Linked DNA regions of Homo sapiens. The protein of the gene in region 1 purifies or fractionates together with the protein of each later gene. This does not show direct contact. Each region holds a gene or a part of one and is shown on either strand. Other genes may lie near its edges.

Evidence for each region.
Region 2: the proteins of LRRC8B (region 1) and TSPAN3 purify together in Homo sapiens (affinity purification with mass spectrometry; 2 studies listed by BioGRID and IntAct, with this or other methods). This does not show direct contact.
Region 3: the proteins of LRRC8B (region 1) and TMEM164 purify together in Homo sapiens (affinity purification with mass spectrometry; 2 studies listed by BioGRID and IntAct, with this or other methods). This does not show direct contact.

The regions. Positions count from the first base shown.
Region 1 is NC_000001.11:89,520,661-89,527,834, reverse strand, and holds the start of LRRC8B (volume-regulated anion channel subunit LRRC8B), read right to left. Parts: upstream 3,007-7,174; 5' UTR 2,813-3,006; intron 874-2,812; exon of another isoform or gene 849-873; intron 1-848. UniProt on the Homo sapiens protein: Non-essential component of the volume-regulated anion channel (VRAC, also named VSOAC channel), an anion channel required to maintain a constant cell volume in response to extracellular or intracellular osmotic changes.
Region 2 is NC_000015.10:77,040,886-77,047,119, forward strand, and holds the end of TSPAN3 (tetraspanin-3), read right to left. Parts: intron 6,043-6,234; coding exon 5,950-6,042; 3' UTR 519-5,949; downstream 1-518. UniProt on the Homo sapiens protein: Regulates the proliferation and migration of oligodendrocytes, a process essential for normal myelination and repair.
Region 3 is NC_000023.11:110,167,104-110,174,131, forward strand, and holds part of TMEM164 (transmembrane protein 164), read left to right. Parts: intron 1-4,316; coding exon 4,317-4,417; intron 4,418-6,141; coding exon 6,142-6,348; 3' UTR 6,349-7,028.

The DNA.
Region 1 (7,174 bases):
GAACCACAGTGATAAGAACTTAGGAGAGAGATCAGTGATTGGAGCTAGGCCTAATTTTACTTAAGATCAACCTTAATGATCAGAAAAAGAAAAATAGGTTATTATGTCTGCCAAAGGCATTATTTTAAACACCAGAGAAATTAAGTCATAATAAAGGCATGTAGGAAGTTTAGAAAATACAGATGGGGAATAAAATGAAAGTAGGCAATAGCAATAAAAGGCAGCAATATGAAAACAGATATGACACAAATTAGAAGGTATTTTACAAATGGTTAAATAAATTCTACACTATAACTGGGTCTCCCAAATTCCTCTTGAATGGTCACAGGTCTGAACTGTTTGCTGATGTACCCAGTGCTCTGGGAGTCAGGATAGCAGTGGAGAACCTGCTCCATGCAAGGCAATGCAAATCATGCCACCAAGTGTGTAATAACATGACAGAATCAGAATGCATTCATTTCTAATAATATCAGGGTGTGGTAGAAGGATGCTGGGAAGGAGAAATAAGAGTAAAATTAGAGAATTCAACTTTAGAGACACCAAATGAAAATCCGGGATTGGGTTAAACAGGCTATGAATAGTAAAAAGTCCAGAAAACATAAAATACTCAGGTACTATTAGAAGAATTTGAAAACTAAAATACAAAAACAAAAACCCTTGTTTATAAGAAAAACATTGGCTAAAACAAGGATGTTCTAAATTGTAAAATATTTTTCCCCTTAAACTTCAGAAAACAACAAAAAATAACAAATTTCAGGCCACTACAGGAAAATACATGGATTAGTCTAAAAAACTTGGAAGGCTTAGTATCCTTTAAGTTTTATTAAGCCCCTTTTCATTTTACTTACTGTTGGTGTTTTCACTCTGAGGATTCTGAAAATTAAAATAGCAATGGGAAATGGTGATAGTGGTAGAGAAGAGGTTTAAAAAAGCAAATCTCAACTAGTCAAATGAAATCATTCAAAATGTGAAAAGATTCATAATAGGCTGAACATGTTGGAACACCTTACCAATTGAGGAAAAAGAGAACACATTTCAAAGAATGGTAAACTTAATTCCGACATGCAGATTTAAAAATGTTGTTGGGGATACTAAGTATAAGGAAAGTGCCATGACCCAAGGGTGCACTCAATGACAACATCACCCCCATTCAAGAGACCTCTTTTTAGCTTACAGAAATATCAGACATGTTAGGGCTTATATTCTAAAATTACACAGGCCCAATTACCTTGGGGGTTGGCTGTCACTTTATATTCTCTGAGTAGAGCTGCTGACAAGGAAAGCCAGGAGAAAAAGAAAGTCACCTCGGCACCCACAATTCAGAGAGCATTTGGGGTCACACCTGTAATCCCAGCACTTTGGGAGGCCGAGGTGGGTGGGTCACTTGAGGTCAGGAGTTTCAGACCAGCCTGGCCAACATGGTGAAACCCCGCCACCACTAAAAATATAAAAATTAGCTGGGCGTGGTGGCGGGCCCCTGTAGTCCCCGCTACTCGGGAGGCTGAGGCAGGAGAATCACTTGAACCCAGGAGGTGGAGGTTGCAGTGAGCCGAGATCGCACTACTGCACTCCAGCCTGGGCGACAGAGTGAGACTCCGTCTCAAAACAAAACAAAGAAACAAAACAAAGAGCATTTGGGGTTCTCAGGAGGTGTAGCCTGTACACATAGAGGGTACTGGAATTGTTTAAAAAATTACACTGCAGTTTGACTTCTTTTCCATCCTCACTCCTACACCTAGGTTTAGGGGACAGAACCATCTGATAAAGATAAATCTGTTTTAAGATTTCTGGGGTGTTCTGCAAAGACTACTATATCATTTGCAAATAGGTTGTCTTTTAATAAAAATCATGCTACGTAATGTCTTCTTAATATACGCTGAACAAATTGCCTGTTTTAATTTGGCTATATATCTACAATTTAAAATGTTCATACTGTTATCTTTTACCAGTGGAGTGTTTTTTTGTTTGTTTGTTTGAAGTCTTTAGGCGAAGTGAATTTATTCAAGGAAGTTCACATGTCGGTTTTGTTCTTTTAGAGGGGTGTCTTTTTGACCACAAAGAAAAAAAAAGTTTTCCACAAATGTCATCTAACTAAAGGCAATCTATGGACTTTAGGAAGTCAGTTGAGCACACAGATTAATGAGCCAATACTGAGCCTCCTCCCTTCTGACCTCTCAGCACCTGCTCAACTAAGCTCAGGGGAAACTCTTGAGTCTTCTTCTTAAATTGGTAACGCTTGCCCTTTCTTTCTCAAACAAATCAACGCCCAACACCACCACCAAATTATAGGCAACCAACGCGTATCCAACAGCATAAAATAGTTCCCAAGAGCATAAAATAGTTCCCAACAGCGCCAGCGCAGGGGGCAAAACAGAGCGACCAAATGGGGGCACCCTCAGGGGAGTTGCGCTCATCTGGAGCGAGACGCCAGCCTGGGAAAGCGGAACCCCTTTCCCGCCCCGCCCCGAGGACTCACGCTCAGGTGCAACGCCGAGACTCCCGGGGGAAAGAGAGGTGACCGTCTCGGCGCGACCGCCCACACCTCTTGCTCCAAATGACCCCAGCACACAGGAGAGGTCCTCTCAGCGTGGGACTCCGTCTCTCCCGAAGGCAGGGAGCACAACGAAGCGGCCACTCGTCTCTGCAGCCGCGCTACCGGCCCGCAGCCTGGCTCGCAGGTGAGGCGTGAACAGGTAACCGCACCTGTTCGGCCAGCCCCACCTGCTGCGTCCCCGTATCCGGTCCTCCTCCTCCACCACCTCGGTCGGCGCGGCTCGCCCTCCTGGAACCGGGGTGTCACGCTCCGACCTACCTGCGCGACTCCAGCCCCGGACGCCCGCGCTCCCCGCGGCGTGCTCCTGGGCCGCTCCGGGCGGGCAGGCTGCGGCCCCGCGCCCGCACTTTCCCGGCTGCCGGAGGCTGCGGGCTCAGCGGGAAGCCCCGGCGCTGTCCGGCTCGCCGCCTCCGACCGGCTCCATTGTGACGCGACGCGTTCCGCTGGCCAATGGGCGCTCGGCGGCGCGAACCGCTGACTAAGTTCGCGGGTGGAGGAGGAGGGGACGGGGCGGAGGCAGGGCGCGGAGGCGGCTACCACGGTGGTGGCGGTAGCAGTGGCGGAGGAGGAGGAGGAGGAGGAAGAGGAGGAAGAGGCTGCAGTCGCTTCGGTAGCTGCTCCTGCTGTGAATTTTTCAGCTGCCTGGGCCTGAGTGTTTGCCCAGCTCTGGGGCTGCGGGAGCCAGTGACTCACCTATCACTGCTGGAAACAAAGCGCAGCTGCCATCTCCCCGAGCGCGCCATGTGGCCATCGCTGCCCCCTCGCCCAGCCTGGGGTCCGCAGGAGGTAGCGCACAGCCATACGCCCCGCGGAGCAGCTGGAAAGAGCGGGGACTGCTTTCCAGAAGCGGGAGGGAAATGGGCTTCGGCGTGTCCCCCAGGCGCGCCACACCGGTGACTTCGGCACTACACCGCGTGTGTCGGGCCCCAGCCTTCTCACGTGTGCGTCCCTGAGTAACTTGGCATTTATATAACGCGTGTTGGGCCCTGAGGGAAAGGTCGGGTGCAGCACGCGGGAACCTCCTCTTCGAAAAGGAAGTCCCCTTACTTTTCTTTACCCTGCTTAGAAAGATTGCAGGGCCCAGCCTCTGTGAGGGAGGGTTTACAGTTGTACCAACTAAGCGGCTTAAGTTCGATTCTGGCCTTCCAATACCATTGGCTTCTCTCAAATGTCGTTATCCTCAGGATAGGGAGGGGACCACATGGCCGAGGGGCGGTCCCTATACTCATAACCTGCCTTTCACTGCGATTCAACTGCAGAGACACCTCAACTACTGCCCGCTTGCTTCTCTCCCAAGTGGCACTGCATTTGAAGGCCAACAATATTCCTTACGAAACAGAATTAATCCAAACCCACAAATTCTAGGGACATAAATATTTTTATCATCCTCATCCATTTCCCCACTCTCACCCTTACCCCAGTTTTAACTCAGTCTCTGCCCTGGCTATTATCTTGAGCACACTGATTCAATTAGGCAAGATTTATGTCTTTTAGTTGCTATGGTGGTCACATCTCCATTTAAAAAAAGAAAGAAAAAACAAGTTTGTACCGGCATCTCCCAAAGGAATAAAATGAAGACGAACAGACTCAGCATTTGGGGCATCTGAGCAGTTTGTGTAAATGGGAGTATAGCAAATGCCCTATCGAGTTAATATGAGACAAGAGTTGTGTCTCAGACTGTTCAGATGAGGACTACAATTTGAGTCACCCTGAAAGGGAAAAAGAAGGCTGTCTTTGTGTCACTGATCTGTTCTTTTCTTGTTCACTCAGTCCATTCTGGAACTGCAGATATCTTTTTTCTGAGTCTTGAAGGAAAAGCTGAAAGAACATTTCTTCACTTGGTCATTCGATAAATTTTTATTGAGTTTATATGTGTGAGACACTGGGTATGCACAGATCTACAAGTCTAATTTAAATTTAGGTTTGATCCTTACAGGAGTATCTGAAATTCTCTCAGGGACTTTCTGATTAATTATTTTTGGTAGAAGAAAATTCTAAAAGACTCTGTCACTACTTTCACAGCCAGATTTACCCAAGTCTAAAATAGTGATTAAAAATTCCATCATGGATTTTAAGCACCAAAAAAATGACAGGCAGGTCTCAATCGTTTTAGAGGTTTATTTTGCCAAGGTTAAGGACATTCCCCAGGAGAAAGCACAAATACAGGAACATCTGTGATCTGTGCCTTTTGCAAAGAGAGTTTTTGAGGACTTCAGTATTTAAAGGGGAAAGAGCCAGCAGGAGGGGAAGGAGAAAAGAAAGAAAAAAAAGGGAAATGGGAAGGTAGGCAATGAGGGAAGAAGTTACATTCTTGTGAGGCTTTGATTAGTGCCCAGTGAATTCACATTTTGCGTGTGAAGAGTGGGTAGAGGAATACTGATTATGTGTTCCTCTCATGCTCAGTAAATCTACATTTTACATAAGATAAATGTGAAAATAGGGGGAAAGTCAATTATGAATTTGTCTTGGGGTGGGCAGAGGGATGATTTCCAAGTCTTGTCCTTATACCATACATATGAAGATGAGCTGTTATTGTCAGAGTGAGATTCAACAGAACTGTGTTTTAGGGCTCATTTATAGGAGGGATATGCATTCTGAAAGATTTAGGGACCCACAAGGCATTTCACTGTAAGCAATTTGTGAGGGAGGCTATCTGGGGAGATATGTGGCCTTCTATTGTTGCAGCTACCTGGTAACAACAGAAGGCAGGTTTTTAAAATTTTTTTATTTTTTATTTTATTATACTTTAAGTTTTAGGGTACATGTGCACAACGTGCAGGTTAGTTATTTATGTATACATGTGCCATGTTGGTGTGCTGCACCCAGTAACTCGTCATTTAACATTAGATATATCTCCAAATGCTATCTCTTCCCCCTCCCCCCACCCCACAACAGGCCGTGGTGTGCGATGTTCCCTTTCCTGTGTCTGTGTGTTCTCATTGTTCAAGTCCCACCTATGAGTGAGAACATGCGGTGTTTGGTTTTTTGTCCTTGCTATAGTTTGCTGAGAGTGATGGTTTCCAGCTTCATCCATGTCCCTACAAAGGACATGAACTCATCCTTTTTATGGCTGCATAGTATTCCATCGTGTATATGTGCCACATTGTTGGACATTTGGGTTGGTTCCAAGTCTTTGCTATTGTGAATAGTGCTGCAATAAACATACGTGTGCATGTGTCTTTATAGCGGCATGATTTATAATCCTTTGGGTATATACCCAGTAATGGGATGGCTGGGTCAAATGGTATTTCTAGTTCTAGATCCCTGAGGAATCGCCACACTGACTTCCACAATGGTTGAACTAGTTTACAGTCCCACCAACAGTGTATAAGTGTTCCTGTTTCTCCACATCCTCTCCAGCACTTGTTGTTTCCTGACTTTTTAATGATCGCCATTCTAACTGGTGTGAGATGGTATCTCATTGTGGTTTTGATTTGCATTTCTCTCATGGCCAGTGATGATGAGCATTTTTTCATGTGTCTTTTGGCTGCATAAATGTCTTCTTTTGAGAAGTGTCTGTTCATGTCCTTTACCCACTTTTTGATGGGGTTGTTTGTTTTTTTCTTGTAAATTTGAGTTCATTGTAGATTCTGGATATTAGCCCTTTGTCAGATGAGTAGATTGCAAAAATTTTCTGCCAATCTGTAGGTTGCCTGTTCACTCTGATGGTAGTTTCTTTTGCTGTGCAGAAGCTCTTTAGTTTAATTAGATCCCATTTGTCAATTTTGGCTTTTGTTGCCATTGCTTTTGGTGTTTTAGACATGAAGTCCTTGCCCATGCCTATGTCCTGAGTGGTATTGCCTAGCTTTTCTTCTAGGGTTTTTGTGGTTTTAGGTCTAACATTTAAGTCTTTAATCCATCTTGAATTAATTTTTGTATAAGGTGCAAGGAAGGGATCCAGTTTCAGCTTTCTACATATGGCTAGCCAGTTTTCCCAGCACCATTTATTAAATAGGGAATCGTTTCCCCTCTTTTCTTGTTTTTGTCAGGTTTATCAAAGATCAGATGGTTGTAGATATGTGGCATTATTTCTGAGGGCTCTGTTCTGTTCCATTGATCTATATCTCTGTTTTGGTACCAGTACCATGCTGTTTTGGTTACTGTAGCCTTGTAGTATAGTTTGAAGTCAGGTAGCATGATGCTTCCAGCTTTGTTCTTTTGGCTTAGGATTGACTTGGCAATGTGGGCTCTTTTTTGGTTCCATATGAACTTTAAAGTAGTTTTTTCCAATAACAGAAAGCAGTTTTTTTAGTGACTCAGTTCCCAAGCTTAGCTTTTCTTTTGGCTTAGTCAGTTTGGGGTCCAGAGATTCCATTTTTGTTTCACAGCACTTATTTTGTGCCTAGCAGTGTGCTAGACATCATGGGTGATACCAAAGAAGCATAAAACTTGGTCCCTGACCCCAGCAGCCCACAACTTAGTTGAACACGGAAAACAATCAAGGGCATCTTCTGCTCAAAGGAAATGAAGATTGAATAACATGGGTGGAAGTAGTCAGAAAATGCATTATGGAGAGAAGGGAACTTAAACTTTTGAAACAGAAGCAGGATTTAGAAGGACTACATCCTTTACCTTTGCCTTATTGGCCCTAAACTTTATCTTAAAATAACCAGTCCAGCC
Region 2 (6,234 bases), on another chromosome or scaffold:
GACCTCACAGATCTCACAGGCACTGCAATAGAAAGCCACGTGCAACACACAAGTTATTTTCAAGAACTGCAAGGATGCACCCAAAAAGCAGGTGCTGTTACACACCAACAACCACCAACTCGGAAATAAGTTAGGAAAACCATTGCATTCACAATAGCTACAGACATTAAGCTTCACAGAAAAGTTTCCTAAGTAAACTCTGTTAAGATCCGAAAGAAAAAAACCCAATAACCAATCAAACCGGGCAGAGGACAGAAGCAAAATTCAGAAGATACAAATGGCTGAAACACCTTTAAAAGCATCCTGGCCCTAGCTAACAGTCAAATAAACACATATTTTCATCTCTCAGAATGGAAGAAAAGATGAAGGCTGATCACACCAAAAGTGTCAACAAGGGTGTAAAGAAATGCACATTTCATTCACTGCTGGTGGGAATAGAAATTGATATAAGCTTTCTGGAGAGCAACCAGATGTATCCATGAAAATGTTTAAACGTGACTTTTTTTTTTTTTTTTTTTGAGACAGAGTCTTGCTCTGTCACCCAGGCTGGAGTGCAGTGGCATAATCTCGGCTCACTGCAACCTCTGCCTCCCGGTTCAAGCGATTCTCCTGCCTCAGCCTCCCAAGTAGCTGGGATTACAGGTGCATGCCACCAGGCCCTGCTAATTTTTTGTATTTTTAATAGAGATGGGTTTCACCATGTTGGCCAGGCTGGTTTTGAACTCCTGATCTCAAGTGACCCACCTGTCTCGACCTCCCAAAGTGCTATGATTACAGGCATGAGCCACTGCACCCAGCCAAACATGACTTTTCCATCCAGAGTAAATCCAACTAACAAGAATCCACCCTTGGAGTTCATGTAAAAATACATGACACAGGGTGATGAAAGTGCTTTGAAACTAGATACAGGCAGTGGTTCTATAGCATGGTGAATGTACTCAAGGCAACTTCTTTACTTTAAAATCGTTAATTTTATGCCATGTGAATTGCATCTCAATAAAAATTGTTTTCATTTTAAAAATTGTAAATGACTGCAGTGTGTGTATAGAGATGATCACTGTGGCGAGTAGTGGAGGCACTGGAGGCAGCCTGCAGGCCTGCCCTTTATACACCTTGGTTAATCATGGTACTAATGTACCCACACAGCTAACACAATGGAATGACAAATCCTACAGTTAGACATGGAAGGAGCATCAGACTATGTTGTGAAGACAGAAAGAGGATCTTGTAGGATAAAATTCCTATTAGCAAAAAGCAAAAACCAAAACCCAATACCAAGTCTGTTTCTGTGTATGTAGTCTGCAAAGACACATGCCATTGCTGAACTGCTGAACTTGCTTCCCTGTGGGTACTTCTTTACAGATGTCTGTATTGTTCACATTTTTTAAAGCACCAATTACTTTTGTTTAAAAAAATACACTTAAAAAAGGCAGTAAGACAAGCTCTGTCAATCATCTATAGGACAAGAAGCAAAGACACCCCAGCTGCAATAAGCACACCTAGTGCCAGGGACCAGGGCTCCTGGGACAAACACTGATCCATGGCTGGTGCCCAGGGGCCTGGAACATCTTGTTAGATCAGAAATTAGGGGAGTGCTTCCAAAAATGCTGGGATATAGGAGGCACTCGAAGGGGCTCTCGCTGGCCAAGTCGGGAACTATCTGAGGAACTCTTCCCCCATCCCCAAAGGTCAATGATGAAGTCGACTTTTGAAAAAATGGGAATCCATAGTGGATATATGAAAATAAATGAAGGAGAAGGGAGGGATGACTGGCAAATGAGGAAGGAGTGCTGGGCTGCAGAAACGTCGCTTGGCAGTCATCATAAAGATTGAATCAGGCCAGAATCAGCAACATTTGCTGAACCTGGTCGGGGAATGGGGAAGAGTCTCATGAGGAACAGGGTATGTACATGGAGACAGTGTGTCTCCAGAGATTTCTTATTAGTTGAAAAGAAAAAAACAGTAACCATGCTATGGAGAAAGTGGACACACCTCGACTAGGTGTGCCAGGTACTCATTTATTGCCTCTTAACTCCAAATTTCCCTGACCTTGCCCTTCCTTGTCACACTGAAGAGGGGGCTCTGAAAACTCCTTTACCCTTTGCCAGCCTGACCCACAGTGGGCTCTGAAGGGGCTAACAAGGCTAGAGGAGGAAGATGGCCTTTTTCTTCTGTCTCCTTTCGTCCTGCACGGGTCCCAGCAGCATTCCCCACCGTGACAGCTCTCTGCTCCTGTGGCTTGGCGGGGGGGCACCTCCAGTAAGTTGATTCTCCAGCATGGGACAGGCAGCATATCCCAGGCAACCACAGCCACCCCTCGGAGGTCTCTCCACCTTGGGGAACCTCCTCTGAGTTTCCACGTTCCTTCTCTGTTTTCTCTTCCCTTAGCCCTAGGGGTGATGGCTGTTCTCTGCTAAGCTGCTTTAGAGCTCTTTTTTATCCCTTTTAGTAGTTAACTACCTTCTACACAGTTAACAATTACTTATATTAAAACCTTCCTGTTCACATTTCCTCCTCCTTGGACTAGATGATCAAAACGAACATCCCCACTGTGGGGCAGATGGGCATTGTGTGCCTCGAGATGCGATGCCCTGAGAGGCCGCGTGACGCAGGTAGTGGTTCAGCCACCTGGAATGCAAAACCAAATCTAATCACGAGGAAATCGCAGACAAACACAGATAAGCAGCACCACCTAAAACGAACTGTATCCTTACAAACTGTTCCTATCATCACAGACAAAGCTATGGAAATGATCCAGATTAAAGAAGACCAAGGAGACATGACAACTCAACTGATTACCTGATCCAGACCAGATCCAGCACCGCAGAGGGAAAGGTGCTATAGAGGACACGATGCGGCCAATGGGAATATGAGTGGTGAGGTATTCTATCAGTGTTAGATGGACGGAATTTGACAACTGTACTGCAGTCGTCAGAGAGTATCTTCTTCTTGGTAAGTACCCACTGAGGTATTAGGGGTAAAAGGCCATGACAGGTGTGGAGGCAGCAGGAGGGAGGGAGAGGGAGAGACAGGGGGTTGGCGCAAGGGAGAGAGAACGCACACACATTTGAGAACACACATGACAGATAGAATGGGACGAAATGTTAATAGGTGTATCTGGGCAAAGGATATTTGAGCCTCATTTGTACAGTTTTTATTCTTGCAACTTTTCTGTAGCTTTGAAATCATTTCCAAGTAAAATTAACTTTTTTAAAAGAGGCCATACAATATAGCAGTGGTCCTCAACCAGGGCTGTGTCCTGGACACACCCTAGAGCACCTTAGATGCTCTGGGACCCAGGCATCTGTAGTTCTCAAAGTGCCCCGGTGCTTCCAATGTGCAGCCACGGGCAGGAAACACCAGCCTAGTGGGTGAGCTCACTCACTAAATTTCAGACATGACGAGCAGTGCTTTTGCTCTCTGAAGAACAAGCACTGGGTAATGCCAACACCTAGCCTCAGCTACACGGGGGAAGGGCAGAAACAAGATGTTGAATTTGCATGGCCCTGGCCAACACAGACAACATCCCCTTCTAGTGGTTCCCAGGCAAGAGAAAAAGGCATTTCCAGGACAACTGTGCCAGGAATTAAACACAAGTTAAAACTGGCAGGAGCTGGAATGGTTTCCCAGACCTCAGAGCTACCTCCCCACCTCCATCTTTTTGGTCTCACTGGTAATATGGCCAGTCTGGGTCCAGCTGGCAGAGCACACGGGAGGAGGCTGCTCTCTCACCAGGCAAACTGAGGACTGAGTACAGGAAGGGTGTGGAGAATTATCCTCTTGGGCAAGTTGAAGAACAAGGCTACTGCTTGGCATATTTCCCAAAGCCATTTCCCACTCTAGAGGCCCTGTTCTGTCCTGTAGAAAGAGTGGAGAACAACCAACATCACAGTCCAAATATTGCTCACCTCAGGGCCAGCCTGTGACAGGGTACCCACAGGATGGTTCATATTGAAAACTGGGGGGACCATGCTCGGGGGAGGTGGTGGTAGTGAAAGGTCACAAACATTCTTGCCCACTGTGCAACAGGCAGGGGCAAGAGGTGGGATGGGTCAGTAGTCACATGATAAATCCCCCGGGGCCTCTGAAATCACATTCTGGTAACTTCCACTTTGTGAAAAGGAGTTAGTTTTTACTCCTCTCCTTTCCCGTGTCTTCTCCATTTTCAGGTGGGACAGATCTGCATGATATTTGGGCATCTCAAAACTGACGAGCCCAAAACTGACCATGAGTCACACCCCCAGATGTGTTCTCTAACTACTCCCTAGCTCTGTGACTTTGTTTCCCCAGTTGACTGAGCCAGAAACCTGGGACTCATCCTAGATGAGTCTTCTCTTCTCCCTTCTCTGTCCCACGTCCAATCAATGATCGAATTCCACCACTGTCCTGCCTCCAAACAGCCAGAATCCACCGCTCACCACCGCCCCCAACAGTGCCCTGCTGCCCACTGCTAAGCTCTCTCAACTGCTATGCCAGCCTAACTGAAGCCCAGTCACACCAATTCATCCTGGCTTCAGCACGGCCGGCTTGCATCACCACCTTCTTCTCAGTTCACCTTCCAAATCAAACCTCCAAAGAGCTGCTTCCACCTACAAGTCAGCTCTCACCTCCACAGGATGTTCCGTAAGACACTAGAGGGCCTGGGCTTTCCTGCTTCTCCAACTTCTTTCCCCAGCCTTGTATTTTAAGCTCCCTGCACACACAATTTTGTTTCACACTCTTGTGTACCATCTTTCAACAAAGCCTATCCAGCCTCCAAGCTTGGGCATCTCCTCCAGGAAGTCACCCCTGACCTCTCCGGAACTCCCCTTTGGACTCCCATTCTATTACTACAACCACTGCAGTGTGAAAATTATCTTCTCCTATGTATGTCTCCTATACTAGGACTCCGAACTCCTTGAAGACAAGGACAGTATCGCCACTGTATCCCCAGTGCATTGCACAAAGTAGAGCTCTATATTTCTAGGATATACTGGACTGAAAGCATCTGTGGTTTTTTGAATATCAAGCCCTTTAGAATCTGGCAACAGCTATAACGAAAACACACGTAAACCATGATGAACTATAGACAGCACCAACAAAGAAAACATGATACTGCTGCTCTGGAACTGAAATATCCCCCAAATAATGAAAAATAATATGTTGGGGGCTGATACAGAGTTTATTGAATTAGATTTTTCTATTTACAACTGAGATCACATCTACATACTATTTTGCTAGTCTACATGGGTACATTATTTCCAACAAGCTTAAGACTTACCATGAATGGGCTCATTCATACAAAAACACACTCACACTAATTCTTTTAAAACAGTAGTGCATACATTATACTCCTCCTATAAAGCCAACTTTGATTAAAAACCACTAGTTTCAAAGCTCAGTCTCTGATTTTGAAGATGAACCAAGATATACGCCATATGATCCTACAATCTATTTTAGTCATTTTGTACAGCTGCTATCTTATTGGACTACAGTAAATATTTTTTAAAAGGACACCAATGAGGGGCACCATCTGGTGTTAACCTTAACCAGAAAGCTGGTTTCCTCCTCCTCCCCGCAAAAACCTTTGGCCAAGAGTTCTCCACTGTGAAGACTGAAAGGACCTGGTGACATTTCGGCATCAGTCCTGTTACCACTTGGAGGTAACAGAAGCAGGCTCGTGTCCTCCTTTAATTCTACCACACTACATGACTCGCAATTGGTTCTGAAATTAGAACGTTCACCATCGTACTTAAAATCTTAGGGGCATGAAGAGTCAGCTAGAACAAGGAAAAAGAAAGTCGCAGGTAGTAGGTAAGTAGGTGGGCACATGAAAAGCCAAGCTGCTCTGTCCAACACCAGTGTACATGTGCTTTAACTAAATGAACTCCAGAGGCCAACAGCAGCAGACCTGCTCAATTCACCTTCCAAATCAGAACAAGACCAAAAAGCTCAGGCTTGAGTTGTCAACTATGCATAGGTTCCGCCAGTGATGAGGAGCTCGTAAGCAGGATCTCTACTCCTTCTGCACAACACGATGCAAGCACACAGCATGCCCAGCAGCTGTTGAAAGAAAACAACAATGGGGAAAAAAGGCTGAAAACCCTCTCATGGCAGGTGTGTATTTCTTTGTTGGTAAAAGAGCTGTTTCAAAGTTCAATGACTTCAAATCATCAAAAAGGCAGTAACAACAGTGATAGAAGGAATTTCTTATGAGTACATTATTTTTTAAGGAACTAAGTCCTAAGCTTCAGC
Region 3 (7,028 bases), on another chromosome or scaffold:
ATCTTCTAGTCTTTTATAAGATTTTGGATGGTTGTGGTCGCCATGATAAAAAATAGCAGCAGCCATCTGCATGCCAGGATAGCTGTCGTATATACTTTTATCTCTCTTTTTCCACTCACCAGCCCTTAGAGGTAGATGTTACCCTCAGCCCACCAGCAGGAAAACAGGCTTAGAGGGGCAGCACAATTTGCCCAAGGTCACTCCTATGGGTAGTGGCAGAGCCATGATTCAAACCCAAGGCTACATGGCCCCAAGGCCTTTGTTTTTAAACTACTAAGCTGTATTTTCTGCCATTTGTGTACTGCCTGGTGTTTTGTCTTTTGTCCTTGCCATTACCAGCCATAGACAGATACATAGTTTGGCTGTCATTTGAATGGTAGTGGACTCTGTTGCACAATGTTGAGGTACCATAGTTTATGTAACTATCTCCCCACTTGGTTTGTTTCCAGTTTCTCAGTATTATAGATAGTGCAGGTGTAAATATCTTTGCGCAAATTAGGGTGGTTTGTTGGAGTTTTTAGGTATTTGATGGTGGTCCGCAAAGTAGTATTTTTGAGGCAAAGAGTTATAATTTTATGATTCTCCAGAAAGTCTATACCATTCATTCACCCAAGCAGTGATTACTTTTGGAGTGCCCACTGTGTACCAGGTGCTGGACGTGAAGAGGTAATTCAGAAACAGCCCCTCTCTCAGAGAACTAACAGTCTGGTATGGGATGGATGATGCAGCACAGAATGAATGCTACTAAAGTCGGGGTTTGGGCAAGGGGCAGTGAGAGCACTGAGAAACAGTGTCCCCTGGTAGTATCTCTGAGTGTTCCTTTCCCTCTGCAGCATGGGGCAAGACGGGAGGAGCATGATAACAGGGCTGGCTGCAGAGCTGCCTCCTGGCTGAGGACACCCCCCACCAACACCCACGGGCTTTCCTGCCACCGCCTGTTGGCTCAGTCACTGCTGCCCATCTGCCACTAGGGGGCGCCGAGCAGAGAGGATGGAGGGAGGGGGCACCCGGGACAACAGGACTGGGGGCTCCAGCAGTGGGAGGAGTGGCAGCCTAAGCCCTTGTCTGTCCTCCAGGCCTCCTCTTCCCCTGTATGCCCACCGCAGCCAGGGTGACAACACGGTGCCCAGTCCACACTCATTCAGCAGACAGGAATGTGTGCATGCCTTAAGGGCATAGCTCTGTGCATTTTCACGCACCAAGCACTGTGCTAGATGCTAGGAATGCAGAAGTGGCCTGACATGGTCCTTGACCCTGAGATGCACTTGGTCTAGAGGGTTGGACAGACAAGGGAAGAGACAATCCAACTTGTGTGCTGGAGGCCTTCACAAGTGGCAACAGGAGCGTTGAGCTCCCTAGTGAGTCCCCTGGCAGTGCGTGAGAGTTCATTTCTCCAGTGCTCCGCTCTTATGACTTTGGCTGTGACATTGCCCATCTTCTAGCCTGGAATTTCTCCATCTATAAAATGGAGGGAATGATATCTATGTCTGCAAGGGCCTTCTGACTCAGATGTGCCATGAGCCTAAAGCAAGCCTGAGCTTCTTCCACAGAAGAGCCCCCAGCCCTGGTCCCCACTTTAGTCACTGAAGAAAGTCTCCTTTCTCTTCTCGCCCACATGCTCTCCTTACATGGTTTTCCTTGGCATTCTGCCTCTGGCCTTTTCCTTCTCTCTTTCTACGTATGTTCCCATGACTTCAGTTACCACTGTGTGCTGATGACACCTACATCTCCATGCTCGCCCCCATCCTCTCCACTGAGTTTGTGACTCATATAACAATGAAAATAATCAGCATTTGCTAAATCCCAGATACAATACTGTAATTACGGTATATTATCTCATCTCATCTCTCCAACAACATTGTGAATTAGGCAGTGCCACCCCATTTTATAGGTGAGTAGAACCGAGTTCAAGAGATGCTGAGACTTTCCCAAGGCCCCAAAGTTGATAAGTGATGGGGCCAGGATTTGCAAACCTCTACCTGTTGAGCTCCACTGCCCATGCTCTTATCCATCACACTATATGTCCTAGAGTACAGGCAGCCGCCAAAGACCCATTTCCACTTGGATATTCCACATACACCTCAATTTCATGTCTAAACTTGGCCTCATCATTTCCCTTCTGTCCCAATCTGCCTTTTCCTCTCTTCTCCATGGCAATAAATGGCACCATCAACCCAGTGATACCCCAGCCAGAACACTGGGAGTTTTCCAAGATCCTTCCTCTCCCTTACCAACCCCCATCTCCCCAACAATCTTCTCCAATCTTCTTCCACATCATGGTGATTTTCCCCCCACTCTCCTCCAGCCTCACTGCTGTTGCCTTCCAAGGCCATTCATCCTGTTCTCTTTTTGGGCTCCTGTAGCAATCTTCTTACCAGCCTCCCTGCCTCGACTCTGTCTGCTTGAGTCCATCCCCTGCACACCAGCCAGGGTGATCCTTTGCAGACACACGTGATCACCTCACCTTACTGCTTCAAAACTTCTGCTTTCTGTGACTCTACAGCAGAGCTCAAAGCTGGCCACCCATGGGCTGAAATCCATTCAGAAGACATGTTTTGCTTGGTCCAAAATGTTCTTAAAACATTTTGAATTAGTCGCCAACATTGGAAAATCAGGAAATTTCACATAAAAGTTCATATATATTGGCTTCTCTTGCAAAAGTGAAAAGAACTGGTAACTCTGGGTGCACATCCCTTCAGGGCAATGATTGGATGGAGCTGAGTGGTGGTTGCCCTCTTTAGAAGGGGTGTGGGCTTTTCAGTTTGACAGTCTCCAGCATCCCCTAGTGTCTCTTAGGCCCTGGTCGCACCCCTGCTTCCAATTATCTGCCTGAGAGTTGGGGCATTTGAGTTCATGACCCTGGTGCATGGGATGAAGCCCAAAGCCCTCAGCATGGCTTCTAGTGTCCTATGTGTCGCAGCCTGGAGCAGACCAGCCCTGCGAACCTCTGAGGCTAGTACCTGCTAACTGCCCCGTTACACTCTCCCCTGTGGCCCCATGGAACCCTTATCCATAGTTCTCTGAATTGCCCCACTCTTGTCTGTCTCCATGCAAGCTTGTGCTTTGGAATTCCTAGGCCCCTCCTTAAGTCCTATTTGTCCTTCTGGGCTTTGCACCAGTACTTGCTGTACCAAGAAGCATTCCTTGTGCCCCTGGCTGAGTTTTGTTTTCCCATAACAGGTGGCGCAGACCTCAGTCATCCCACCAGCTACCCTGTGTTGTAGTTGTTGACTGTGAGTCTGCAGTTGCAGGGAACCTGCCTTCTTTATCTTCCTGTCCTCAAAGCTTTGCACAGGACTTGGAATACACAAGGTGCCTCATAACTGTTGAATGAATGGATGAATCAGTGAAAGACTGATTTGGGAAAATAATAGTCTAGGATATGATGTCAACCCTAATTGCTTGGGGTGGGGGTTCCAGGTCCCTTTCATTCTTCAGCATTCCCCACTCTGAGTTCCCACTCAGAGTGATACCCACAACATCCTATAAACCATGCCCCCATTCTCCAAGATGTGGAATATATCCAGGCCTACTGGGATGATACTTTTTAGCAATGATAGAGGGAAAATATATCATTTTTGGTATCCCTGGGGGAGAGTTGGCACATTCTTCAGTTATTTGAATAATAATTAAGATAATGCCAGCATTTAACACTCACTGAGCACTTACATTGTACCAGACCCTGAACTAAGAGCTCTCAGTATATTGTTTCATTTATTCCTTCAACACTAAGAAGTAGGTAGTACTATTGTCCCCATTTTACAGGCAAGTAAACTGAGATACAAGGATTTTAAACAACTTTTCACATGGCCCGTAAGCGGTAGAGTCAAGATTTGAACTCAAATCTAACTTCATAGTTAACATTCTCAACCACTACACCATACTTCCTCAATGACATTTCTCTTTAGAAACACGAGGAAATAAATGTGGGAATGAAGGGTATACAATTATGTGTACAGTAAGATTGCAAATACTAATTTAGAAAAGAAAGAAAAGAAAATCCTGAGGCAGAGAAAATGACCAAAGAGACAAACTCATGTGAAAATTTTCTTTAATGAATACATACCACTTTTATGATTAAAAAAAGAGTCCTCTCTTTGTAGTGACCCTAGAAATAAGTGGCAGGACAGAGGGCAGGAAGGGGCTGGGTTGAGTACCCAGCTAATCAGTGGGGCTGTCTCTTGAGTAGTTGCCAGTGATCAGTAAAAGGAACAGTCATCAGGCAGCAGCTGTGACCTCAGTACCTGCACCCTCATGGTACAAAGGTGAAGTGGGTCACTATTCCTGCCATCTCACCATCTCCCCTCTTCCTCCAGGTGCTTACACTCCAGAGCCCCTCAGCAGTTTCCGGTGGGCTCTTCTCTCAACTGGCCTCATGTTCTTTTATCACTTCAGCGTCTTGCAGATCCTCGGCCTGGTAAGTTTGGTTATATCCCCTTCTATCCCCTCTGTTTGCAGTTCTCCATAAATCTTGGTAATCCTGGTTGGTGCTGACGTATCACTTTGTTTTGAAAATGCAAGATGCTAAAGGCCAGGATGTCAGATTGTTGTGTCTGGATTGCTGATTTATGATCTACAGCCTTGGCCTCTCCAAAGAGTTTTCTGAGTCTTTCAGTAATGACTGTTTCTTTCATCCCTGGGGAGGCAAGGATGCCTTTCACTCATGGCCACTTGGGTCGGAAACAATGAGCTGCAACTGGAAAGTGGTTTGTTGTGGACCCCATGGGGAGGCAGGACCCTAACCCTGCCCCTTGGCCTGGGGGAGTCTTCTGACCTTGGGTCCATCCTGGGCCCATTCATAGGCCCTGAAGGCTGCACTCTTCCCTGAGCTTCATGGCCAGTGAAGTGTGGTGTTGGGGAAATCCTGTGGCATTCTGGGGTGTTTAGAACTTCCTGGAGTCATGAAGAATGGTTGGATGGTTGGACTCAGTAGCTGAGTTATCCAGAGCCCAAAATTGCTGAGTGTAAGAGTGTATATCAGTGGCAAAATGAGTAGGAAGAGCTCAGGACTGGGGCTGGGGGTCAGGAGACCCAAGTTCAAGTCCTGGCTCTGCCACTGCTCTGAATGAGTCACCTCACCCTTGAGGGCAGAGAGTTCTCCACCTCTCTTTGACATGGTATAAAAGCCCCAACTTCCCTGAGAGGTGGTGAGGACTTGTCTTTAATGTGAACAGGCTTGAAGGGCTTTGGAAGGCAGGTGCCGCGACCGTCCCCGGGGCAGGTGTCGCATGTCTGGTTTTGTGTGCAAGTGGCAGTAATGTAGCATTAGCCATGTGGAGCCTCGCGTGACCTAGCATGACTAGGGCGTGTAACTGATGTCCCCAACACCTTTGTAGAAGCAGTCACTTTCTCTTCCTCATTCTGGTGTATGGCTCTGCTCTGGTTTGCTGGGGGCTTAGTCTGAGCTCCTTGCCAACAGTGTGAATGCTTCCTGCGCTCTCAGGAGGAAGCCGTACAAAGTTCACACCCTTACCACTTGCTGCTCTCCACTGGGACCCAGATTCCAGAGGCATCAGTGTGCTCATGTCACCCTACATACCATGCTCAGGCAACGCCTCCTACAAGGAGGGCAACCCTCACCCCATTCCTCACCATAAACCCCCATCCATCTTTCATGAGTCCATTCAGGTACCACTTCTGTCATGAAATCTTCTCTGAGGACTCAGCCCCCATATTGTATGCTCCTCAGACCTCCTCATAGTGTATAAAGCTGGGTGAGCCCTGTCTGGTTTGGGGTCAGATGTAGTAAACCTTTGACCACCCCCACTTGATTGATTGCAGTTACGTGGAGGCAGGGCCCACGCTGTGGGCTGTACTTTTAGCCTGTAACACCTCTCCGGGGTCTAGGCACATAGTAGATGCTCAGGAATGGCAACAAGTTCTGGGCCCAAACAGAAGGCAAGACCGTGAGCAAAACTGAATAGCTTTTCCACTAGACGGCCCTCCGCCATCACCTCCAGAGGCCTCTAGCTTGACTCACTCAGAAAACCGAGGGGAGAGAAGAAATCCCTTTATAAACAGGTGGGGATTGGTCAATCCCTCCTTGTCTAGTCCCCCATTAGGTAGAGATGGCTGAACTGGCAGAAGCCAGAGAAAGCCTAAGGATGGTGAACGCTCACTCTACCTCCCTTGTCCCTGCAGGTCACCGAAGTGAATTTGAACAACATGCTGTGTCCGGCCATCTCAGACCCATTCTACGGCCCCTGGTATCGCATCTGGGCCTCGGGACACCAGACTCTCATGACCATGACCCACGGGAAGCTGGTCATCCTGTTCTCATACATGGCTGGGCCCTTGTGTAAATATCTGCTGGATTTGCTCCGGCTTCCAGCCAAGAAAATAGACTGAAGGTGCTTATTTTTTTTTTTTTTCCTCCCTGAGGAAGCAAGTCGTGACTTGACTTGGAGAACACCCAGTTCTTGATAAAATCATGGGAGAGGGCAGTAGGATGTTTGGTGTATTTCTTTTTCCTCCTTTCTGTCCCTTTCTTCTACCACTCTTCCTTTCCCAGCTCTTCCCCCTACGATGTCTCCTTGAGCCTGGGGTGTAGTGCTGGGCGCTGGATTTTCCTCCTTCCCTTTGGCTCTCTCTCTGCTCCTAGTGGCCTTACATGGGGAGATTGCAGTGAGCGGCTCTTTCACTCTGCTTGTCGGTGCTTTAACAACAGCTGGTTGAGGAGAAAGGGAACAACAAGTAGTAGTTCTTTTGGCATCGAAGCAATGAGATTGGGTTGTGTTTCATTTCTCCACTGCCAGGGACCTCCAGGCTTATGCTGGCGTCCCATTTAGTCTCCAGCACAGCCCTTACCACGGGGGACTGAGGCCTTGTTTCTATACCAGCGGCAAGCCCAGAGCCGAGGGATTTCACAGCTCGTGGTCAAGACAGAACCAGCCAGATTCTGGTCACTGGTGTCCCATGACTCAAAGTAAACAGCCAACCAGCCACTCCCTCCAGGATGCTGCCTGGGGTGGGAGGTGAGAGCACCACCCAGCCCAAGGGCTAGATTCCATTGAGAGGGTTGGAGATCT